Linked DNA regions of Homo sapiens: all the other regions are reported to be linked to region 7. Evidence: microRNA targets listed by miRTarBase, many of them from high-throughput screens and not tested one by one. Region 7 holds a microRNA gene; each other region holds the end of a gene's coding sequence.

What was found. The annotated mature microRNA hsa-miR-4768-5p reads AUUCUCUCUGGAUCCCAUGGAU and lies in region 7 at 1,893-1,914, opposite strand. An mRNA with a match to its seed (bases 2 to 7 or 8) in the 3' UTR can be bound and repressed. Matches are read on the target gene's strand: a 7mer-m8 pairs with bases 2 to 8, a 7mer-A1 pairs with bases 2 to 7 and ends in A, and an 8mer does both.
Region 1: miRTarBase lists LSAMP as a target of hsa-miR-4768-5p. Seed matches in the 3' UTR shown: 8mer at 1,632-1,639 and 8mer at 2,925-2,932.
Region 2: miRTarBase lists PLEKHA2 as a target of hsa-miR-4768-5p. Seed matches in the 3' UTR shown: 7mer-m8 at 2,646-2,652 and 7mer-m8 at 1,527-1,533.
Region 3: the mRNA of EMCN is a reported target of hsa-miR-4768-5p. The part of its 3' UTR that is shown has no 7-base or 8-base seed match.
Region 4: the mRNA of USP32 is a reported target of hsa-miR-4768-5p. Seed matches in the 3' UTR shown: 7mer-m8 at 1,585-1,591.
Region 5: miRTarBase lists DR1 as a target of hsa-miR-4768-5p. Seed matches in the 3' UTR shown: 8mer at 2,681-2,688.
Region 6: miRTarBase lists TSHZ2 as a target of hsa-miR-4768-5p. The part of its 3' UTR that is shown has no 7-base or 8-base seed match.

Annotation. Positions count from the first base shown.
Region 1 is chr3:115,807,717-115,810,814 of GRCh38, reverse strand. It overlaps LSAMP (limbic system associated membrane protein), which reads left to right. Exons shown (of 7, transcript NM_002338.5): 7 at 401-3,098. The coding sequence ends at 498. The region is part of intron 1 of LOC124906269 (a long non-coding RNA gene); the gene reads right to left. Among named protein-coding and RNA genes, the nearest start is that of SNORD155, 96 kb to the left of the region's middle.
Region 2 is chr8:38,969,478-38,972,477 of GRCh38, reverse strand. It overlaps PLEKHA2 (pleckstrin homology domain containing A2), which reads right to left. Exons shown (of 12, transcript NM_021623.2): 12 at 1-3,000. The coding sequence ends at 2,695. Among named protein-coding and RNA genes, the nearest start is that of HTRA4, 3.2 kb to the left of the region's middle.
Region 3 is chr4:100,407,814-100,410,911 of GRCh38, reverse strand. EMCN (endomucin) reads left to right here. Exons shown (of 12, transcript NM_016242.4): 11 at 557-630. The coding sequence ends at 591. Among named protein-coding and RNA genes, the nearest start is that of SNORA101A, 14 kb to the right of the region's middle.
Region 4 is chr17:60,176,683-60,179,780 of GRCh38, forward strand. It overlaps USP32 (ubiquitin specific peptidase 32), which reads right to left. Exons shown (of 34, transcript NM_032582.4): 34 at 645-2,746. The coding sequence ends at 2,573. It also overlaps a transcript of CA4 not described here. Among named protein-coding and RNA genes, the nearest start is that of CA4, 28 kb to the left of the region's middle.
Region 5 is chr1:93,360,231-93,363,328 of GRCh38, forward strand. It overlaps DR1 (down-regulator of transcription 1), which reads left to right. Exons shown (of 3, transcript NM_001938.3): 3 at 263-3,098. The coding sequence ends at 409. Among named protein-coding and RNA genes, the nearest start is that of DR1, 16 kb to the left of the region's middle.
Region 6 is chr20:53,256,086-53,259,183 of GRCh38, reverse strand. TSHZ2 (teashirt zinc finger homeobox 2) reads right to left here. Exons shown (of 3, transcript NM_173485.6): 2 at 2,613-3,098. The coding sequence ends at 2,621. Among named protein-coding and RNA genes, the nearest start is that of TSHZ2-AS1, 250 kb to the left of the region's middle.
Region 7 is chrX:17,424,705-17,427,802 of GRCh38, reverse strand. It overlaps MIR4768 (microRNA 4768), which reads right to left and starts at 1,922; the gene lies at 1,849-1,922. All of the region lies in intron 1 of NHS (NHS actin remodeling regulator), which reads right to left.

The DNA.
Region 1 (3,098 bases), not on the chromosome of region 7:
ATGTCTGACTGCTGGAGGACCCTCACCAATGCTTGGAACCTTAACGAGTGCTGGCCCCAGAGAGTTACTTCGGGCAGGGCCAACAGGAGGAGGCTGGGTGAACAGGAGCCTGCTGTACCATCAGACACATTAGTGATAGCCAGTTTAAGGACTTACCCGGCAAAAGCATTTTGTATTTAGAAGTGTTTCAGCCAATGATGCCCCTTAGGATACTTGTAGCCCAAGGAGGAGAAGGATTTAGAAAAGTTTTGAGCGCTTCTTGGGCTGCACATAAGTGCAGTAACTTTGAGATGCTAGTACCTGGCCAGGTCTTACCTCTGATACCATCAGCAGTCAGCTATAACATACAGTGGGCCCATGTAACTCATTCTCTTTTTCTCTCTCCTCTTTTGCTCTGCAGGACCTGGGTCGGTGAGAGGAATAAATGGATCCATCAGTCTGGCCGTACCACTGTGGCTGCTGGCAGCATCTCTGCTCTGCCTTCTCAGCAAATGTTAATAGAATAAAAATTTAAAAATAATTTAAAAAACACACAAAAATGCGTCACACAGAATACAGAGAGAGAGAGACAGAGAGAGAGAGAGAGAGAGAGATGGGGGAGACCGTTTATTTCACAACTTTGTGTGTTTATACATGAAGGGGGAAATAAGAAAGTGAAGAAGAAAATACAACATTTAAAACAATTTTACAGTCCATCATTAAAAATTTATGTATCATTCAGGATGGAGAAGGTTCTACTGGGATATGTTTATATCTACTAAGCAAATGTATGCTGTGTAAAGACTACACCACACTAAGGACATCTGGATGCTGTAAAAATAAGAGAAGAACCAGATGGATATTAAGCCCCCCAACACACACTTTATCCTTCCTTCCTTCATCTTTTTTCATCTGTGGGGAAGAAAATAAGGTCTTGCCTTTGGTGTTTATATTTCCATAACCTTTTAATTCTATTTTTCATTTGAGCTGACTTGTAGCCACTTCAGACTATCAATGGAATCTTATGTTGAGCCTTTCTCTGGCTTTCCTTCCTCCACTATCTCTCCAACTTTAGAGATCATCCCCTCTCCCTCCAGTGCGTTCTATCTCCCCCACACCCACCCTAGATACTCCCTTTTCACCCACCTTTCCTCCCTCACCTCTCCTCACCTCCACCCCCTCCCCAGAGCACTAGTCATGCCGCAAATGCTAGGAAGTGCCATTTTCATTTTCTCCACTGTGCGTGTGTGCTCAAGTCTTTCGCTCTCACGTGGGTGTACATGTGTGTGAGCGTGTGTGTGTCTCTCTCTAAAGCATGCCAAGGGAATGGTCCATGTGTACATAGACTCATTGTGCTGTAGATACTGTCCTGCATTGTAATTGTGAGATGCGGCTGTAACAAGTTGCTGGGGGAGATGGCGGGGAAAGAGGCAAGGAGCAGAGTCCTCCCTACATCCATGGCTGTCACATGGCATCAGTGTGTATTCAAACCAAGCTATGCTCCTTCCAAGGGCAGGACCCCATATTCCTCCTAGTCCCATCATCAGAACCGAGTGGGGAGTCACTCAGAATATCACTGTAAATGAAAGTGCCTACTATCGATGGGGTAAGCAAACAGCATAAGGAATTATGACGTGGACGAGGTGACCTAGGAGAGAAAATTTCAGATTTTACTCTCATTTCATGAGTCTGAGGGATTCTTATATTTCCTGGCATTTAACAGGGTAGGCCCTGCTCCACTGTGAAAATGAGCAGCATGTGTTGAGTAAATCCCCAGAAACAGGAAGGTCTCCAAGTGTCAACTCCCAGTGAAAGAATGATGAACCACTTGGAGATCCTAAGCAGCCCTGTTTTACCTCCTCCCTAATCTTAAATAACATTTGTCCCATGAATTCCCCTGAGCAGAGATTGTTTCCTATTTCAGATAAAATACAGTGAAAGTGAGCAAGGCAGAAAAAGTCAACAGATGCCCAGGCTCCTACTGTATTCTGGAGATACTGTCAGAGCTCTAATACAGAGCACTGGCCATAATGAAAAGCAGTTCACTCCTTGTGCTCCTCTGCAGATGTTTTTCCCAGTGTTCTAGGTTAATGTTTTATTTGGTTGCCTGCATAATCCCTGTTCTGTTTCACTGATGGTGTTTGCAGCACCACTGTTCATGGTGGTCCACTGTTATCCTATGCCAGGGTGCTAAGAATTGCATGATATTCATCTTCCCTGCTCTATTTAAATTTACATCTATAAGAGTCATCTTGACATTAACACTGAAATGTGATCTAGGTCCTTAACCAAAATTGCTGGGCAACTTGTAATAAATTTAGACAGAAATTTTATGAGTACCACAAAGCTTGGTGTTACCACATCACCAGAAGGATTTCTTAGGAAATGTCTTGCCGAGAGAGCTGGCTCTCTGCATATAGATGTCTTTGTCAGAAAACCAACCCTTGCTCTCACTTACACAGTAGTAAGCACTGAAAGTGGTTCAGTTCATGAGAGGACAGAGAATTATTTTGAGATTATATTTGAATGTAATCTTGCAGAGCCAAATATGGTATGTCATTAAGTTGGAACCTTGTAAATAGCTGTTCCATGTTATAAAATGAGAAACTTTGTAACTGGAAAAAAAGAAAGGAAAGAAGGAAGGAAGGAAGGAAGGAAGGCAGGGAGGGGGGGACGGGGAAGGGGGGGAGGGAGGGAGGGAGGGAGGGAGGGAGGGAGGGAGGGAGGAAGGAAGGAAGGAAGGAAGGAAGGAGAAAGGAAAGGAAGGCAGGAGGGAGAAAGATCTAAGTAGCATTGTTAATTTCTTCAATTTCTTCTAAGGGATTTTATTGTTTGTTTTAGAAGCTTATCACAGCCTTCTTTCATGATTTTGCAGTTTAGACTTGATACAAGGAAAAATTCAGCTTGGGGATGGTTAAGAGTGTTTATAGCAGATTCTGACATAGGAGAGAAAACAAATTCTCATCCAAGAAGGTAGCTAGTAAAATATAGGGAAGGTGAGCCATATTCCTATGCAGCATCAATTTATTGACAATCAGGTATTTCTCTTAACAGTTTGGTCTTCTTAGTTCAAGAATAAAGGGTATCATCTTTAATAATAAGCATTCCCCAAAAATTGA
Region 2 (3,000 bases), not on the chromosome of region 7:
TGCAGTGGCTCACACCTGTAATCCCAACACTTTAGGAGGCCAAGGCAGGAGGATCACTTGGGCCAGGAGTTTGAGAGAGCCTGGGCAACATAGCCAGGCTCTGTAGATAAAAAAAAATTAAAAATTAGCCAGGCGTGGTAGCACAACCCTGTAGTCCTAGCTACTTGGGAAGCTAACATGGGAGGATTGCTTAAGCCCAGAGATTCAAAGTTATGATGAACTATGATCACACCACTGCACTCTAGCCTGGGTAAGAGAGTGAGACCCTGTCTTTTAAAAATTAAAAAAAAAAAATTAAAAACAAGCAATGCTCTAATGTGGAATTCCCAAGTGTTTGCCAATTGACAAGAAGATTTCCATTTGACAGTCTTAGTGTCCTCGTTTCCCTTTATCAGGATAATACCATATGGATTCTATGTATGTTTAATTTGTCACATTCTCAAAAGAGATCTTGCTGAATAAGAAACAAATCAGCTTATTATAATGGCCAATTAATTTAGCAATAGTAACCTATCAGATAATTTTTTTTTTGAGATGGAGTCTTGCTCTGTCGCCCAGGCTGGAGTGCAGTGGCGCGATCTTGGCTCACTGCAAGCTCCGCCTCCCAGGTTCACACCATTCTCCTGCCGCAGCCTCCCAAGTAGCTGGGACTACAGGCGCCTGCCACTGCGCCCGGCTAATTTTTTTTTCGTATTTTTAGTAGAGACGGGGTTTCACCGCGGTCTCGATCTCCTGACCTCGTGATCCGCTCGCCTCGGCCTCCCAAAGTGCTGGGATTACAGGCGTGAGCCACCTTGCCGGCCTTATCAGATAATTTATTTAAAAGAAAAGAGAGAGAGAGAGATAAATGGGTAGATTTTCACAATGTATACACCAAAAGAGGACATCTTTTCCGTGAGTCAGGGAATATTTAAAGAGATATCAAAAGTCCCTATTTTCATGAGTTCCACATCACATATTTTGTGCTTTCTTTGAATAGCCAAAAAATTTTCTTGGGGAAAATACGAGAGTAAAACCAGAGCTAAGGAGCTATAAGAATTTGGAATGGCTTCTTGAAATCATGCCGCTCCAAGTATGTCATAACCTCGATCACTCAAAAATACATAACTCCCAAACCAAGAATTTCTGAGGGCAAAAGCACACCAGCGTGTATAGGAAAGGCAGGGGAAGGGATGGAAGGGAGAGAAAGAGGGAACAATGTAGATTTCCTGTTTTATACCAGGAAAACTAGGCCAAACTCAATTTAAATGAATAGCTCCAAAGCAGTGCAGTCAGAAAAAGTTCTCAGTGTGACATAGACTTCAGGGAAACAACACGTCCTGAAAGAAACATGATTCCCCTCAAGCCACAAAGGATTTTCTCATCAAGTGTTTTCACCTCTGCATTAGATTTGGACACAAGAAGAGGAGAGCATTTACTCAGGTAAAAATAGTTCTCTTAGTCTCTTCCTCTAGTTACTAATTTTTAATTTAAAAATACAATTAACTGATCTAGCTGATAAAAGTCACAGACAGAAATAAGCTAAGTTCTCTCTTCCTTTAGGGAACGCTGGTGGCAATTCACCATATAAACTGGATGGAAGAATTCTCCCAGGGACACTGGAAATAGCATCTTCTTATCAAATGGAAGGAGGTACGCCCTAAAATTTGGGTGGGACACTCAATTTTCTTTTATATTTTGAGACGGAGTTTCACTCTTGTTGCCCTGACTGGAGTGCAATGGCGCGATCTTGGCTCACTGCAACCTCCACCTCCTGGGTTCAAGTGAATCTCCTGCCTCAGCCTCTGAGTAGCTGGGATTACAGGCCTGCACCACCACGCCCGGCTAATTTTGCATATTTTTTAGTAGAGGCGGGGTTTCACCATGTTGGCCAGGCTGATCTCGAACTCCTGACCTCAGGTGATCCACCCGCCTCAGCCTCCCAAACTACTGGCATTACAGGCGTGAGCCACCATGCCCGCTCAAAACTCAATTTTCTAGGCTCTTTTATCTGAGGAATCTCTGGCCAGCAACTCATAACATCTAAATCAATGTTTCTATGCCAAGCTTCTATTTCATTAAAAATATATATCTCTCTCTAGATTCTTTTTGTATCTCTTCATGTTAAGTGCATGGAAATTCATCCTATTACAGGGTCTGATCATGCAAGCACACAAGGCTTCATTCAAAGGGCAACAGCAAGAAGAAAGAGAAAGCAAGTTTGCAAGGGTACAAAACACATAGCGCTTAAAATTAGACTAATGCTGGCCCATTCCAAAAGAGCTGCGAGGCACCTGGACTGAAAACAAAATGAAAAAACTAAAACAAGGACAAGGAAATAAAACTTGGTCATTGGTGAAACTGGACTTCCAGCCCCCTCTGGAGAGGAGCTGCTAAAACAATCCCTCTCCAGGAAGACCTCAGAATAGTTAGAATAGAATAGGTAGCTTCCTCTCCACTGAGTATGCCTACAGTTCTAACCTAGTGACTTCCCCAAATTAAATACACTGCGTTGATATTACACACACACACACACACACACACACACACACACACAGCCCAGCTGGATGGGCCCCTCCCTCCCAAAGAGCATCCACAGGAATATGAGTGACATAAAGGCCTCTGACTACCCTCCAACAAGGTAGAGAAACTGAGTCACAGCCTCCTTCTCTCAAGTCCTCCCTCCCTCCCTCCCTCCCATGGCACTGTGCTCCATCACACATCAGAGGTCCGTATGTTTTCATCATCAAGGTTGAACATAAACGGCTTCTCCTTGGGGTGCTGGGGCTCCGATCTGTGCCTTATCCGGGAGCTGGGCAGCACCCCAGGAGCGCTGCCCTCCCCAGGACGAGGCGTGAACAAGGAGTCCTCTGAAGTGTCTCCAGGTGGAAGCAGCTTCTCCCCAGCCTGGGGGACAGGTGTCCAGGGCTGCCAGGAGGAGGCCACAGAGGGGGCTTTGCAGAGGGCTTTCTTTTCCTCCAAAGGTGGCCGCCCCCTGCACAGGATAGAGTTGGGCCCACT
Region 3 (3,098 bases), not on the chromosome of region 7:
CATCCTAGGTTAATATTTCTCTGTATATTGGATGGTGGAATAGCACTGGGATTTTGAGTAATGGCACCTGCGCTGCTCTGTATATCACCCAAGTGTTCATATTGGCCTATAAATTCATTTTCACAAAACCCTCACTGAATTATTTAAACAGAAGGACCCTAGAATGTCTTCCTGATAAAATGGCACTTTAAACACATGACATGGGCTTGCTTAGGCACAGCCAGCTCATGTAACAAGCAAAAATCAATACTTATTCCCCAGGGTTTCTCTAATGTTATCATCTCCCAACTCACATCCCCGCCCCCACTGCCCCCTGACCTATCCCACCCAGGACTTCATATTGCTACTTTAAAGTGAAAACAGATGATGTCTGGGAAAAGTTCATATATTTTGGTGACTAATTTCTAGACAATACCAAGAGGCAAATGGTGGCTTTAATGACATTCTTGCAGGAAAGTTGAACTTTCCTTGAAAAATAGAAAAAAGCTAGGAAACTTTATTTTCATCCTTACTCAGTCTCTGAGCTTACAGATCAAAACATATCTTCTGTTCTCAGGTGAGCACTCTGCACAAGGAAAAACCAAGAACTGACAGCTTGAGGAATTCTCTCCACACCTAGGCAATAATTACGTAAGTTTCCCAATTTCATTCACGGAGACAATCATTAATATCTGTTTTGTTAGCCTGGTGCAGCTTAGATTGTTTTTAAAGAATTTCAAAAGCTGGAAAGCTAATGGTTTGTGTCAATGCAATGATCATTGTCTATTTGTCTAAAAACAAACTCTAACAAAAATTGCCAAAAAATGAATGACCTGGTGGTTGTAGACGATTTGTCCAATTCTCTTGCCTGTCTAAGGAATGACACAATTTGCTCTTTCTGCCTGTTGTTAATGTTTCCTTGTAAATTCAGTCTGCCTACCTAGGTCAGTAAGCACACACTAACTGTGGCACTTAGACAGGCTTCTGTTGCTGACAAAGACTGGCAGAATCCAAGTGACGGTGCTTGCAAATTTGCAGTTTATTGCAAGAAAATGATAAAATATAGAAACTGCATTAAAGTAAAGATGTGTATCACAGCCGTAGGCTGGCTCAGGGAAATGGGTTCAGAGAAGCTAGTTGAAGGGTCTAATTGCCCTCTCTCTATAAGGACCATACCAGAATATGGTCCTTATATTTTTCTCTCTGGGTCCAGAAACCATGGATGTGTGGAAAAAAACACCTCAAACAAGATGATCTAAAATTCAGTTTCAGCCAGGTTTCCTTTTACTCAGCTGGTCATGTAGACATAGTCTTGCTGTGTAACCAGCCAAGCAACAGAGCCCTCCAGGTATCTTGACAAAACCAGATACAAATGATCAATCTTACTACAATAATTGTGAATCAATAAAAAATGGAAATTTCTCAAAAGTATGTTCCATGTCATGACCAGGAGTAAGCTCAAGGCAGGTACGTTTCTTATTTTAGTAAACAGCTCAGGCCAACGTTAAACCTGCTTTGGAATTAAGTCTCCCAGTTGGTATGGGATTGACTTTTACTTTCCTAGAACTAAGTAAGGAAATGCTCTTCTGACTTTAATTTAATTGTTACAAGAAGTATTGATTAAGTGCTGTCACTTAGTTTTTGAGGTTTTATAAAACTTGCAGAAGAATCTACCTTTCGGCAACTAACAATAAAAAATAAAATAAAATAAAATAAATACGTGTCCAGAATTGGCCTGACCACAATGATAGTCACTCTAGGTAAAGTGTCCACGATGAGAAATATTGTTATTCATGGCCTATGTCTAATCCCTAATTAACTAACACTGTTCTGTTACAGACACTCAGAAATTTCTTGTAGAATAAATGGTACCTGCTGTGCTTGTCTGACCAGTAGCAGAAGACAGAGACAGAGGAGTGCCATCCAAACATATGTGTCAGTATCAGAATTTTATCCCTCTCTAGCCAGTAATTAGGGATGGATTAGGAATCTTGGAATTTGTGCACCTCCAGCATGCTGCAGTGCCCTATGGAAAAGAGGCAAGACTGCCTTCCCCTGCCCTCCTGCTCTTCACCAGTCATGAGCCCCTAGCTTGGGCCTGCAATGCAACCACCTTTCCCCAGCTGATTATTCTAATTGGCAGTGGCTCTGAGTGGCATGCCAAGGTCCCTGCCCCTGCTGCCACCAAGCTGGGGAGAGAGAAAAAATCCTAAGCTTGTCTCAGGCCTGCAGTGCACAGTCTGGGAGTGCTAAGCTGAGATCTATGACCAGCACTTGAGTGGGAGAGGATCACACACTCTCAGAGCACTGAGGGGAAGCATGGCTACAAATGTGAGGAAACACAGAGGGGCTGCATGGCTGGGTAAGAGCCTATCTACCAGTCATTATGTTTAAGCACTATCTATTAAATTGCAAACCAAACTTCAACACCAAAAATACTTTGGTAATATACTCCTCTGTAAAACCAAGGACAAGAACTCAACTGCAAATAAAGACCCTGCACAAAGCCTCAGCCCTCTGAACACATACAGAAATGAAACCGACTGACTATACTCAAATTACACTGCAATTAAAGAAACATCAGTCCACATAGGTGAGAAAGAACCAGCTCAAGAACTCCTGAAACTCTAAAAGCCAGATTGCCTCCTTACCTCCAAATGACTGAACTAGCTGCTCTGCAGTGATTCTTAACCAGAATAAAATGGATGAAATTACAGAAATAGAATTCAGAATCTGGATGGCAATGAAGATCACTGAAAATCAGAAGATTGAAACCCATTCCGAGGAATCTGAGGAATTCAACAAAACCATACAAGGAATGAAATATGAAATAGCCATTTTAAGAAAGAACAAAACTGATCTGACAGAGCTGAAAAACTCACCACAAGAATTTCATAACACATTGGAAGTATTAACAGCAGAGTAGACCAAGTCAAGTAAAGAATCTCAGAACTCAAAGACTAGTTCTTCACATTAACAGTCAGATAAAAATAAAGAAAATAGAATTTTCAAAAATGAACAAATCTCCAAGAAACATGAGATTATGTAAAAAGACAAAACTTATGACCCATTGGCATCCCTGAAAGACAGGGAAAGAAAGCAAGCAATTTGGAAAACAT
Region 4 (3,098 bases), not on the chromosome of region 7:
TCACCTGGTCACTGGAGGGATCTTGTTCTACACTCTACATCAGTGGTTGCCAACCTTTTTGGCACCAGGGACTGGTGTTGTGGAAGACAATTTTTCCACGGACTGGGGGATGGGGGGAGTGGTTTCAGGATAAAACTGCTCCACCTCAAATCATCAGGCATTAGATTCTCATAAGGAGCACACAACCTAGATTGCTAGCAGGCACAGTTCACAATAGGGTTCGTTCTCCTGTGAGAATGGCATGCCGCTGCTGATCTAACAGAGGCAGAGCTCAGGTGGTAATGGGAGCAAGGGGGAGCGGCTCTAAATACAGCTTGCCGCTCACCTCCTGCTGTGCAGCCCAGTTCCTAACAGGCCACAGATGGTACTGGTCTGTAGCCCAGGAGTTTGGGAATCCTGCTCTACAGAGTTTCCAACCTCAGAGATGAAGCATCCCCTCTGTAAGTCAGAAAGAAATTATTCAAGTAGGAGAATTAAAACAGGATCACAGAGAGGGAGGCTGAAGAATTTGTCTTTCTGTGTTTACTTGTATGAGGAAAAACGGCACATGGAGGCATCCACAGTATTTAATTTGTTTGTATACTAGTTACAGATAAACAGGTACACCCCATATACAATTACCAATACTTTTTATACAGTTCATATTTCGGTACATCAACACTATTTTATTTACACTCTATTTATGTACATTAACATCTTTCTAAAGTCAGTGCATTGTCAACAAGTTTTATACAGTAATTTACAAGGTGAATGTAGTTAATAGTTAATTTAATAAATTTTCTGCTAGTTCATGAATTAAAAAAATTAATTACAACCAGTATAACAAACACAGATCAAACAACATTAGTAGATTGAGCTACCTGCTTAAATAAAACATCTGTAAAGAAATTATTTAAAATCTTCCACTTTTTAATGGGAATGGACAGATTTTATATACTGAAAATCTTGAAACTATAAAGTATGCATTTTGTCTGACTTTATTACATTAGACAATTTAGGCCAGTCCTACCTACTTGCAATTATATTTTTTCTGAAAAGGATTTCAATTTAGGTAGCCATTTAAGATAACCTTTCCAAATGCTCTGAGAACTAGATATTAATAGTTACTGGCCTCAGATATCAGAACACAAATACTTAGTTACATTGGTAATTACTATCTATGAGGAAGAAAGGGTAGTGGAATCTGACAATTAATGAGAATCAACTTGCAGGGTCTAAATGAATAAACAAAGACCAAAAATAAGGTGAAACATTTCCTTCAAGTATATATTAAAAAACTACACGAAAAAAATGCTACCTGAAATAAATAATATTTATACTTTTGTTCCAGTCTTGATTAGAGAAAAAAATGAAGTAAGCAAAGAAACATAACTTTCGATGACTACTGTAAAATTTAAAAAAAAGACAAATATCAAAATAAAAAAATTAGTGGACATGCAAACAAAGCAAAACTAAAGTTGACTTCCTAAAACCACCAATTTCATTAAATACACTTATGAACTCCTAATGTCTGGGATGTGTTTTGTTTGTAATTTATAGCCCTTAGAGCCATCAAATACACACAAGCAAGTTCATTTGCATGTGTTCTCTCTTTTTTAAAGTGCAAGACAAACACAGAAAAGAACAACCACTAATTGTGAAACGTGATCTAGCTCCAATGCCACTTACCTTCCCAGAAGCTCTTGTTGCAACAGGTGCATGTGAAGATGGTGCAAATATTGGCAACTGCTCCCCTTCCCTCAGCATGGGTGGGGCCGGGGGTGCAGAATACATTTCTGAGGATACTTGAAGTATCCTAAATGTAAGATGCCTCCACTGGGAGGGCCATGGTAGCTGGATTTCCCAGGATGCTGTTTCTTTCTACTGGGTCTCCCACAAGGCTCTGGGTGGAAGGCACACAGCTCTTAAGAGAGCCTCCCTTTCAGACTGACCACTATATGCCCCTGCCACCAATGACTGGTTGTGTCTCAAACATAAATACAACGGCAAAAACAAAAAGCAAGAAAGACAAAGAAAGGGTATGGAAACAGTTTAAAAAATAAATTGAAAAATCCTCGTCCATGCCTTAAGAATCATTTGCACACCTTCGTGATCTTGCTTTCTCCATCTTGTCAATATAATGGAATAAAACTTCAGGAAAAAGGAGGTAGCATATCATGTCGTCCCTAGACAACATTATAATTGTTTGTTTTTTACTCTGACTCCAAGGAAATCTTTAATATTTGTTATGATTATGGTAAACTCTATACTCACTACATATTTGTTCATATCTGGACAAGCACAATTGAATTCTTATTTGGTCCCAGGTGGCTGGTGCCAAACCTTTTGTTTACAGGCTAATGGTGGGATCTGCCTGAAAGTTCTCTATCGGAGAGCTTGTATGAGACTTCAAAATAAAATGATTACTACTCTTAAAGTTAACTATTTTAATTAGAATTTTTATTTTGTGCTTCAGGGCCACAGGATAAAATAACTACATTTAGCTTGCCTTTCAGTGACGCTTTTGCCAAATGTCAGCTACAAGGAGTCATCTCCCTCACCGCCAAGCTGTCTAGCAGCCAGAGTGGTAGCTTTACTGTAACACACAGTACTTTTTGTAATCAGACTCAAAGTCTTCATCCATACTGCTTGTGTCTGCCATCTTTTTGCCATCAGTCTTTGGCAGAAATTGTGCATAGTCTATCCCCTGCTGCTCATAGAAAAGAATGTAGGCAGAGTCGGTGTCAATTTCATCCGGGTGAAGTTCCTGAAAGGGCAAGAAAAACCTTTAACAAAAAGCCATCACTACTATGGCTCTAAATCCTTGCCAGGAAAGGGAAGACCAACCCTCTGTAATTACTAAACCTGATTGCTTCCAATAAGCTCACTAGTTTGGCTGTCTCACACCTGCCCCTTTAAGATGAGCCCCATTATTTCCAATGTTTGCTTTGGGGAAAATATTTTGACCATAGACAAGTCAAAAAAGAATGACCTAAAACCTCATCAAATTCTATTTATTTATTTTTTTGAGATGGAGTCTCGCTCTGTCACCAGGCTGGTGTGCACTGGTGCGATCTCAGCTCACTGCAACCTCTGCCTCCTGGGTTCAAGCGATTCTG
Region 5 (3,098 bases), not on the chromosome of region 7:
ACGTGAAATAAAACAGGGCCATTTATAAGAGATCCAAGTTTGAGAAATTTCTTAGACCTGTGTAGTTAGAAAAAAGCAATCTCTAATTATATTTACCTATAGAGTTTATGTTCTCCAGATGTGTGACAATTACATAGTACTTGGACAGTATCCAAGTATGATAATAAACTGTCTGAAATTGGCCTAATCTACATTTAACCAAAGTGTATATATTGTGGGTTTGTAAAAAATTGTTATTTTTTTTTATGTTTTGGGTGTTTAGGCTAGACAGCAACAAGCAGAATTGGCCCAACAGGAATGGCTTCAAATGCAGCAAGCTGCCCAACAAGCCCAGCTTGCTGCTGCCTCAGCCAGTGCATCTAATCAGGCGGGATCTTCTCAGGATGAAGAAGATGATGATGATATCTGAAATTCACCAGCTGAGTTTCTATTTCTTCTATAAATGTTTTTCCCTGCACAACAAAAACAGTGAAAGAAATGCTTATCTGTAATTTTGTATGCATCTTGGTGGACTTGTCATTGGTATTCTAGGGATGTCTGCTATTAAGTTTCATCTATTGTGTGCTATACATGTAAAAACTGTCTCTTTGAACTATTGAAAATTTAAGGTTCAGTATAATATCAATTTTGAATTTTTAATGGTGTTTATGAAATTTTAGATAGCAGCGAGTCCTTCGTTTGATCAATAAACAGTGTTACAGATAACTTCAAGTTTATAAAAATACAGTGAAATTTCTACAAAGCTCTAAATCTGCATTTGCATTTCCTCTGCCCTTTTAACTAAACTAAAACTTGTGAATTTTAAATTATTAAGGGGGGGGTGCTGTGTGAATCAGTAGACATTGGATTGGGTTGGTGAAAGAGTTCAGTTCTGTAGTATCTGAATTTGTCTTTTAAAATGAGTACATATATAGGCAATAAATATATATGCTCAGATCAATATACTTGTTTAGAAAAACTTCAAGACATTCAAAAACTAGGAAGGAGTATGTTTAATAGTATTTGTATAAATTTGGTGGTTATGTTTTTTTATTTTGTTTCTGTTTTGTGTAGAGGTAAAAACTATAGTTTTATTACAGCATAATTCATTTTGAGCTCCACTATGACATTTCAAAGACTGCCCAGTTTGGAAGTCTGTCATGATTTTTACTCTTTCACTCCAATTCAGTAATTGTTGATAGTATTACTTACCTAGTCCATCCATACTCATATTATTCAAATATATAGGTGGTACTTTTGAAACAATTACATTGGTTCTCTTGGTTTAACTGAGGTTTATGAATATTCAAACCTTTGCTGGGGGAAAGAAATGAAAGTTAATGAGCATGCTTGCTATGAGAGAGGGATTTTTAATTTAACTTGTAGTTATAGTTTACTTATTGTTTTTAGAATTACTTTTACATTTTCCCAACTAGATGGCCTAGAGTCCAACATTACCTTTTGAGATGACATTATTGTCTCCATAATTGAGTGATAGCTTTAAAAAAAAGATTAGTTTTGCTTAAGAAGTTATGTTACAACTGATCAGCCCTATATGAATTAACTGATCAGCCCTATATGAAACATAAGTTGTGTTATAACTTATCAGCCGTATATGGAACATAAATAGTTTCTACCTGCTTGTTAGAGAAGCTTTAATTTGGTTCTAATAAATACAGTATGGTAGTGTTTATAGGAATCCAGGATGTTGAAGAAATGGCATAATGTCTATATTTTGGAAACAGAAAGGAAAAGTCACTTAAGATAGTATTAAGTAATTAAATTCCTATGTCAGTTGCCAAATCTTTTAAACTTATGTATTCACCAAGCCCAAAAATAGATTGTGGCTCCCAGGATTCCAATTTTAATTGGAGAGCTAAGTAAGTAAAGTTTTATAACTGTTAGGTTTCTTAATGATCATATTTTGCAGTTTTAGTAAAAGGGAAATATTGTTATACATTTATTAAATATACTTCCCCCATGAAGTGAAAAGGTTAATTTTGCTGAATGTTTTAAGTTGAAGTTACTTCATGGATGTCATACCCATGAAGTGCATTTGGATGAGATAGAAGAAATTGTTTTTTAAAAAGTTTAAGTACCAAAGGTAGTCTAGTCTAGAACGATAAGTTAATACGTGTTGGCTTTTCTAATTTGTACTGTAACATCCTTATACTTTCTATTTTAAGTATATCTGTTTCTTAAGTAAACAACTTAGATATTTTCCACACCTTTTTTTTTTTTTCTGATGCAGAGTTCAGGTTAATATTTTACTGCATCTGATAATGTATTATACGTTTGAAGCCTAGTGACTTTTCATTTTGACATTCTTGTGATTTCATATGCTGTATTCTTCAAGCAATAAAATTGTGATGTGTTTTATAAATGGTTTTTATATTTAATGTTCTATAGAGAGATTTCTATTATTACCATTTTTACTATTTTCAAGAATCTTAGGCCCAAAAGACATTTTGGTCATTTGGTATGTAGTACCTGCCTTTTGTTTTTGTTTACTGTTATTTCAAAAAATGTGGTTTTACTTGTATTTTTATAATTTACAGTCCTAAGATCGAGGCATAACAAAGCTTACTTATGCAATATTTTATTTTTAGGTTTTTTCTTTTTTTTTTTTTTTTTTTTTTTTTTTTAGCATTTAAGAGTCACTATTATGTTTTGCCAGTTAAAATTTTTTAAATCTTTTGAAGAGAGAAACAAAATCTTCAGCGTTCTTGAGAAATAAAATTATTGTTCAGTAAGTATTTTTCCATCCCCTTGAATATATGTTATATATTCTTTTTCGGCAGATTATCAGATTAGTAAGTGTTTAAAAGGCATCAGTTTTTAAAACTGCATATACCACACACACACAAAACAGTACACAAATAAAGGTTTTCACAAATTAAACAAACTCACATACTAGTCTTCAGATCAAAACACAGAGCATTATGTGTACCCCAGAAGCCCTCCTCTTTCCCCATCTTAACACTGTCTTCTTTCTTGCTGAAAGTTACTATCCTGACTTCTAAAATCATAGATTAGTTTTGCCTGTTTTTTATTTTATGTAAATGTAATCATACATAATACACTTTTTTTCATTCATCATTTTTGTGAATATTTTAGTT
Region 6 (3,098 bases), not on the chromosome of region 7:
ATTACAACTAAGATTAGAGTTCCAGACAACAGTGATGTCATTTCATGACCATTTAGAAACCTTACATGCATCATTCTAAGCAATGGGCAAGGTATTGCATAAATATTGTTCTAAAAGAGGACCCCGGGGGTGGAGGCATTTTTTTCTAAGGTGACCAAAGCACCAAGAATCGACCTTTGTACAGATGGGGGAAACATTCAGGCAGATAGGAGTATTTTTACGATGAACACAAACACAGCCAGTACCTGCACCATCTTTTCTGTTTACAAAACATACATACACGCCCATGGCTTTGAGTGAGTCCCAAACACTCAAACCTGTTTTTCTGCAATCCTCTCAGAACCACAGCCTAATGGTGCTTGTAAGGATGGAGCTTTGGTTTTGTATAATGAAAACACCAATACGGTGCTTTCGAGGTCCAAATTAGATATACTCATCCTGTACAAATGCAGAGAAGTGCCAAAATGGCTATCTTATCTATGTATTTAATGGATTTGGAAGTACCTTTTGTATATGTTTTTCCAAATTATTGGTTCACCTTTGAATCCCTAGAACAGGTATCATACACTCCAGATTCTGACTGACGATGGATCAAGCTTTCTTTTCCTTACCTCTCCCTATCTACATATCAGAGTGTTTTGGCAATTATATTAATTTTCTAAAAAAGATTACAAACCTAACAGGTGGAAAAGTGGTCTTTGTTATAGTACAAATAAATATTACCTATTTGTCCTCTTCACCATGGTTTCAACCCACCACTATTGGATTTGAAATATCTTTCTTCTCTCTAAGTATTCTCTGTATGCCCCCCCTCTTTTTTTTTAAGAACCAGGAAAACATAATGGCAAGTTATTTAAGATTTAAAATGTTATGCAGCAAATAAATAGGACGCTGTTGAACCCCAAGCTCAGGTGTGAATTCAATGGATGCATTTTGGCTTTTCTTTCAATTCCGTGAGCTGAACAAATCATGCTTGGAAAGAATGAGAAGAATCTGCCAATAACACATTCAATCATCATGATAAAAACATGCAAACCAAAAAGATAGTCTTCATTTGGGTCTAGATAGCAATTAGAGTTATAGGAGGACTCCTCTCCATCAGAAGCGTAGATCGCCTCACTCAGGGGAAAGTCCCAGGTCAGATATTTTAACTTTTTATTTCATCTTGGCCATCTTCACACCCAGTAAACCCCTCTGTCTGATGTGAGGCAAGCCCAAAGCCATGCCATGTAAATACCGCTCTCTACCTGGAACTCTCCTAGTGTCCTACCTTTCTAGCTTGTTCTGAAAGTCTTCTATTTGTAAACCAATGCTCTGACAATAGGGTGTGGTGAGCGATTATATGTTATTAGTTTTTCATATTCGATCGTGAATTAAGAGCTAATTAACTAGGAGCAAATCCGTAACTTAACATGACGTCAACTGGATTGGTCAGCACAGAAGGTTTAGTTCAGGTTGGGTTCCCATCTTGGGGAATGGCCGAAGGTGGAGGACCACCTGAACACATAGGAGGGCCCTTAGTGTATGCGGGCATCATGCTGGAAGGGAGAGAAAAAGAAGTAGAGAAAACACAAATGGGCAAATGAAAGAGATTGGTTAAGACCCAGCCTTGCTTATCCTCAACATTTGAAAATGGCTGGTGAAACTAATCTGCCAAAGCATTTGACCTTGGTCTCTGCCCTGTTTCCTAAAAATGACACAAATGGTCTGGGCATGGTTGACTATATAAGGCATGGAACTTCTATGACACATGATGCACATTATCTTCAAGCTATGGGACTCCATGCACATTAACATAAGTGTACAGAAAGCCATTTGTTTCTTTATGTGAAATGAAACCTCAAGGGCACACATTGCCTCTATCTTTGTTAAAGGTGGGCTCTAATACTGGTCTATCCACAAGAAAACCAAAAGATGAAAGAAGAAAATAAGCTTCTTTTCATCTCAATGTTCTGCAAAGAAGAATATTTTTCTACCAACCTGTTAAGGGCACATGCTCATTCATAGGACACTTAATGTAGAAAATAACCAAAGGGAAGAGGTGGAAGGTGGCAATTACTAAAAGTAAGCTGCAAAAAAGCATTCATTACAAGTAACAATCATAAAGACAACTTTAAGCTATTCATGAGCTGATTAAGGAATCTCTATATAGTAACTACTTCTAGCACTCTCCAATCTTTCTTCCATTGCTCAACTTTTTGTCACTTTATAAGTCATTGGCATTGCTATGGAAAGGTGGGGTGGTGAAATGGAATGGTGACAGAAGTTAGTATCTAATAATTAAAATGAAAGATAGCCTTGGCTGGACACTGGAGCTTGCCTTGGGTAATTCAGGATTATGGATGATGAAGGCCTAAAAAAAGCAGTAGTAATCTGTGAACTTTATCTCTCTAAACCCGTTTTATTCTAGTTCCCAGCTCTAAACTAGAGGACTTAAGAGAATGATTAGGACTTAGTTTTCATGTTCTGGTCTTTCATTAAAATAAATCCTACTCCAGCAAGCTACTATCCTGCTTGGCATTGGGAGATGCTAGCTGCCTCTAAGCAGACCCATCTCCCTGTAAGAAAGCTCCTCACCAGGCTAATCGCAATGCCTCAGAGCAAACCCATACCTGCAGAGCTATTCTTCATCCACGTCTGTTACAAACTGTGAATGGTGTTCGGGTGACTTGCTGTGCGTTTTGCTTAGGTGGAGTTTTACCGCATGTTTGCTCACAAATGTCCGACAGCACAACTTACACTTGAATTTAGAGTCTGTGTCCTCTTCGGCAGCTATTGTTTCTGGAGACCTCTGAGCCGACGATACCCGGGAGATCTCTTGCTCCACCTTGCTTTGCTGGTCCACTGACAAGCGGGTCATGTCCTTCATTTGGAAACCCAGGTGAGATTCTAAGTGACTGATGTAGGTAGAAGGGGTTCTGAACTGGGAGGCACAGTCACTGCAATAAAAGATGGGGTGGCCTTTGTCCATGTTTTTCAGAAATTTTGTCCCGCCCGTTTTCCTAAGCTGGTACTTGACGTTGGCCAGCCAGTGACTGATAGTGGTCATTGAGAGTCCCGTAAACTTAGAGATTTGCATACGCTCTTGTGGGCCCAGA
Region 7 (3,098 bases):
TTTTTTAAAAAATATATTCTTAGGAAGTATTCCAACAAGAAAAGATGGTAGACCTCCAATGTGGGTCACAGCTGGCAGTCTGACCCCAAGAAGTTTGAACCCAGCCTCTATTATCTGTGCAAGACAGAACTGTACTTCTGCTTTGGAGTTAATCCCAGAAGAATTTATTTCTTTTCCAGCCCTTCACATAGCTTGTGCTTTATGGTGGCAGACTCAATGGACCAAACCTTCAGCTGTGGGAATCATGGCTTCAGCCATTGAACACACACAGCCCAGTCAGCTGGCAGAGTGGACAATAAACCTACAAACACTCAGCAAGTCACTCAGGTTCTTGATTCAAGAGTAAATGGCTTCATAAACACAATCATAACAACAGCGGCATGAGTTGGTGCATGTCAATGTGTACATTTCGGTAGAGAGGGCCCAGAGACACGTATTTTGGCAGATGCTAGGTCTTGGCAAGACTGTAAGCAAAATCACAAAGCAGCCCAAGTCTGTGGTCAGTCCCAACTTCCTATCAGTACACCTTTTCCATCCAGGCACCCCATAAAGGTGGATTTGGTCTCTTCCACATTCCATTAAGTGTAGCCTCAATTCCCAACAAAAACCCACACCACACCTCTTTTAAGGAATTTTATAGGAAAACTTTACCTAAACATGTATCCCCAAATCCTCTGAACTAGCAAAATCCTATTCAGGTTTATCTCCATGTCAGAGAGATGGGAAATATATCAAGTTCTGTCAGCAGGTCAGCCAGGCCGAGCATGCCAAGTGATCTGGGGTTATAGACAGCAGATTAATCTCAAAGCTGGAACTTCTTTAAGACCAGGAAGTAGCCCCTTTTCTGATTAAAAGACAAGTCAATAATTCTGGGTCCTTGGTCCACCACTGTGATATGTCCCTTGCAAAACAGGCACTCTCAGGCAGTCTTCCCTGCAGAGCAACCATGATGGATACTGACTACTGACTTGAAAGTGCTTTGACACCCCCAGATGGAAGGAACTAATCAATTATGCTTCTCACTTAGAGGCACCCTGCTCATTCATGCTGAAGATAGAAGTCCAGATAAAAGTAGAATTACTGGGAGTCCAAGATCCAGAAAGAAAATGAGAGAGCTCAGCTGGTCACTGTGAATGATGTGCATGTGCCCCAAGCCTTTGAAACACATGACATTTTCCAGCAGCCAAGCACTCATCAAATTGCAGAATGTCGAAGCTACAAGGAAACTTAGCAATTATTTAATGATCTAAATTACTTTTATTATAGTGAAGAGGAAGCTGAGGCCTAGAGAGGTAAAATAACCTGTCATATAGCTGAGCAGCGAAAGGAACAGACTCATTACCCTAGTGATCTCCTGTCACACAACCCATCTCATGAAGCTCTCTCTCAGGTCGAGTTTAATAGATGAGAGAACAAGGGGTAGTCTGCCTATGCAAAGCAGGTACACACAATGAGATCAGAGCAAAGGGGATTTCCTCCCCTGAAGCTAAACAGCCCCCATAAGTGATGTTACGTGTTAGGATAATTTCCTTGGTGTGCTGGAAGATGTTTCACAAGCATGGGTGGTGGGGACCCTTATTTGCCATATTTGCCAATTTCTATAGTGTAAATACTCTCATCATGGCAGATTTCAAGCTACCAACTTGATGCCACTGAACAGCAGTTGGGGAGAGATATGTGCAATCAGCTCTTGTGAGCTGATAGAAGCTGGATCCTCCACACCACTGGAATTTCTGAGAAGTCTACATCACGGGTTTAGGAATGAAATAACTTTCTGGCCCACAAGAATAAAACACCCAGGTTTATGAGGAAAATCCTAGCAGCACACACTCTAGGTTTCACTCACTGAAACTCTGATTCTCTCTGGATCTCCTGGACATCACAGTTCCCATATCCATGGGATCCAGAGAGAATCAAAGTTTGGAGAAGTTACTTGGTCCATCATGTCTGTATCTCTGGGTAGTATCCTACCTAATTGATCCAAGGCAGGAGCACTGAGAGGTGGAATCCACATTCCCTATCTTAATGCTTTTGGCAACCAAGCATTCCTTTCCCAGCAGTAACAGGATCCAGTTTCCAAGGTGATATGTGAGCTCAGAGCCCCATCTTTACCAACGTCAAAGGCAGTGCTTGGATTCAGCTTCAGGTAGGCCTCCTCTGTTCATGTAAGCAGGAAGGAAAACATGTAAAACTGAATTCCTCCTCAATTTCTTTCTTTCTTTCTTTCTTTCTTTTTTTTTTTTTTTTTTTTTTTTTTTTTTTTTTTTTTTTTTTTTTTTTGGCTGAGAAGAGTTCCAAGGCTGGGGCAGCAACTCATCAGGAAAAGTTCTTAGCCTGTGCTTTCTTTTTGCCAAACATTGATTTGCTAATAGAGAAAATAACTGGTGTATAAACAAAAGTGGTTGATGACATCCAAGGGTCTGGAGCAATTCCTCCACATCGTTCTGACAGCTAACAAATGGAACTAGCTCTTAGGGAGCATGTTTAAGGAACAGCTGGAATATGTAACGGACATTTTTCTGTGAATTTGACAGGTCAAGCTCCATCACGGTTGAGCTACGCTCACCGGACGTGGATCAGAATGAACTCTGCCATTCCTCAGAAGGTTGCCAAGAGGGCTTTGAAGAGAAGGGAATCCAAGGAACTCAGTTTCAGACATGGAGAAGAATAAAGACCAGACAAATCATGAGCAAACCTGATTTAAAGAGAAAGATCTATAAATACCAGTTGCTCAGCTTTCTCCCTGGTTTCCTGACCCTATGATGAGCTCCACCAAAATTAAGTAAGTATAGCCCTTTCCAGAGGGTCACTTGGAGGGAAGATCCTGCCATATGTCGCCTATTGGTCTTTAGCCTCACCACCACCCCAACATCTGATAAAGTCAACAGACGTGAGTTCCTAAAGGATACAGAATATACAAGATACTTTCCCTTATACAAGGATTCACTCTAAGCATCGTTAAAATGGCAAACTCACCTGGGACCCCTAAGATAACCTGATTTACCAAAATCTGGTTTATCCTTAGCATATGAGGAGCACATCCATTCTCTAAAGCAAGGAGATTTTCAAGATCAATGAGCAGAGAAACTTCTCAAAAG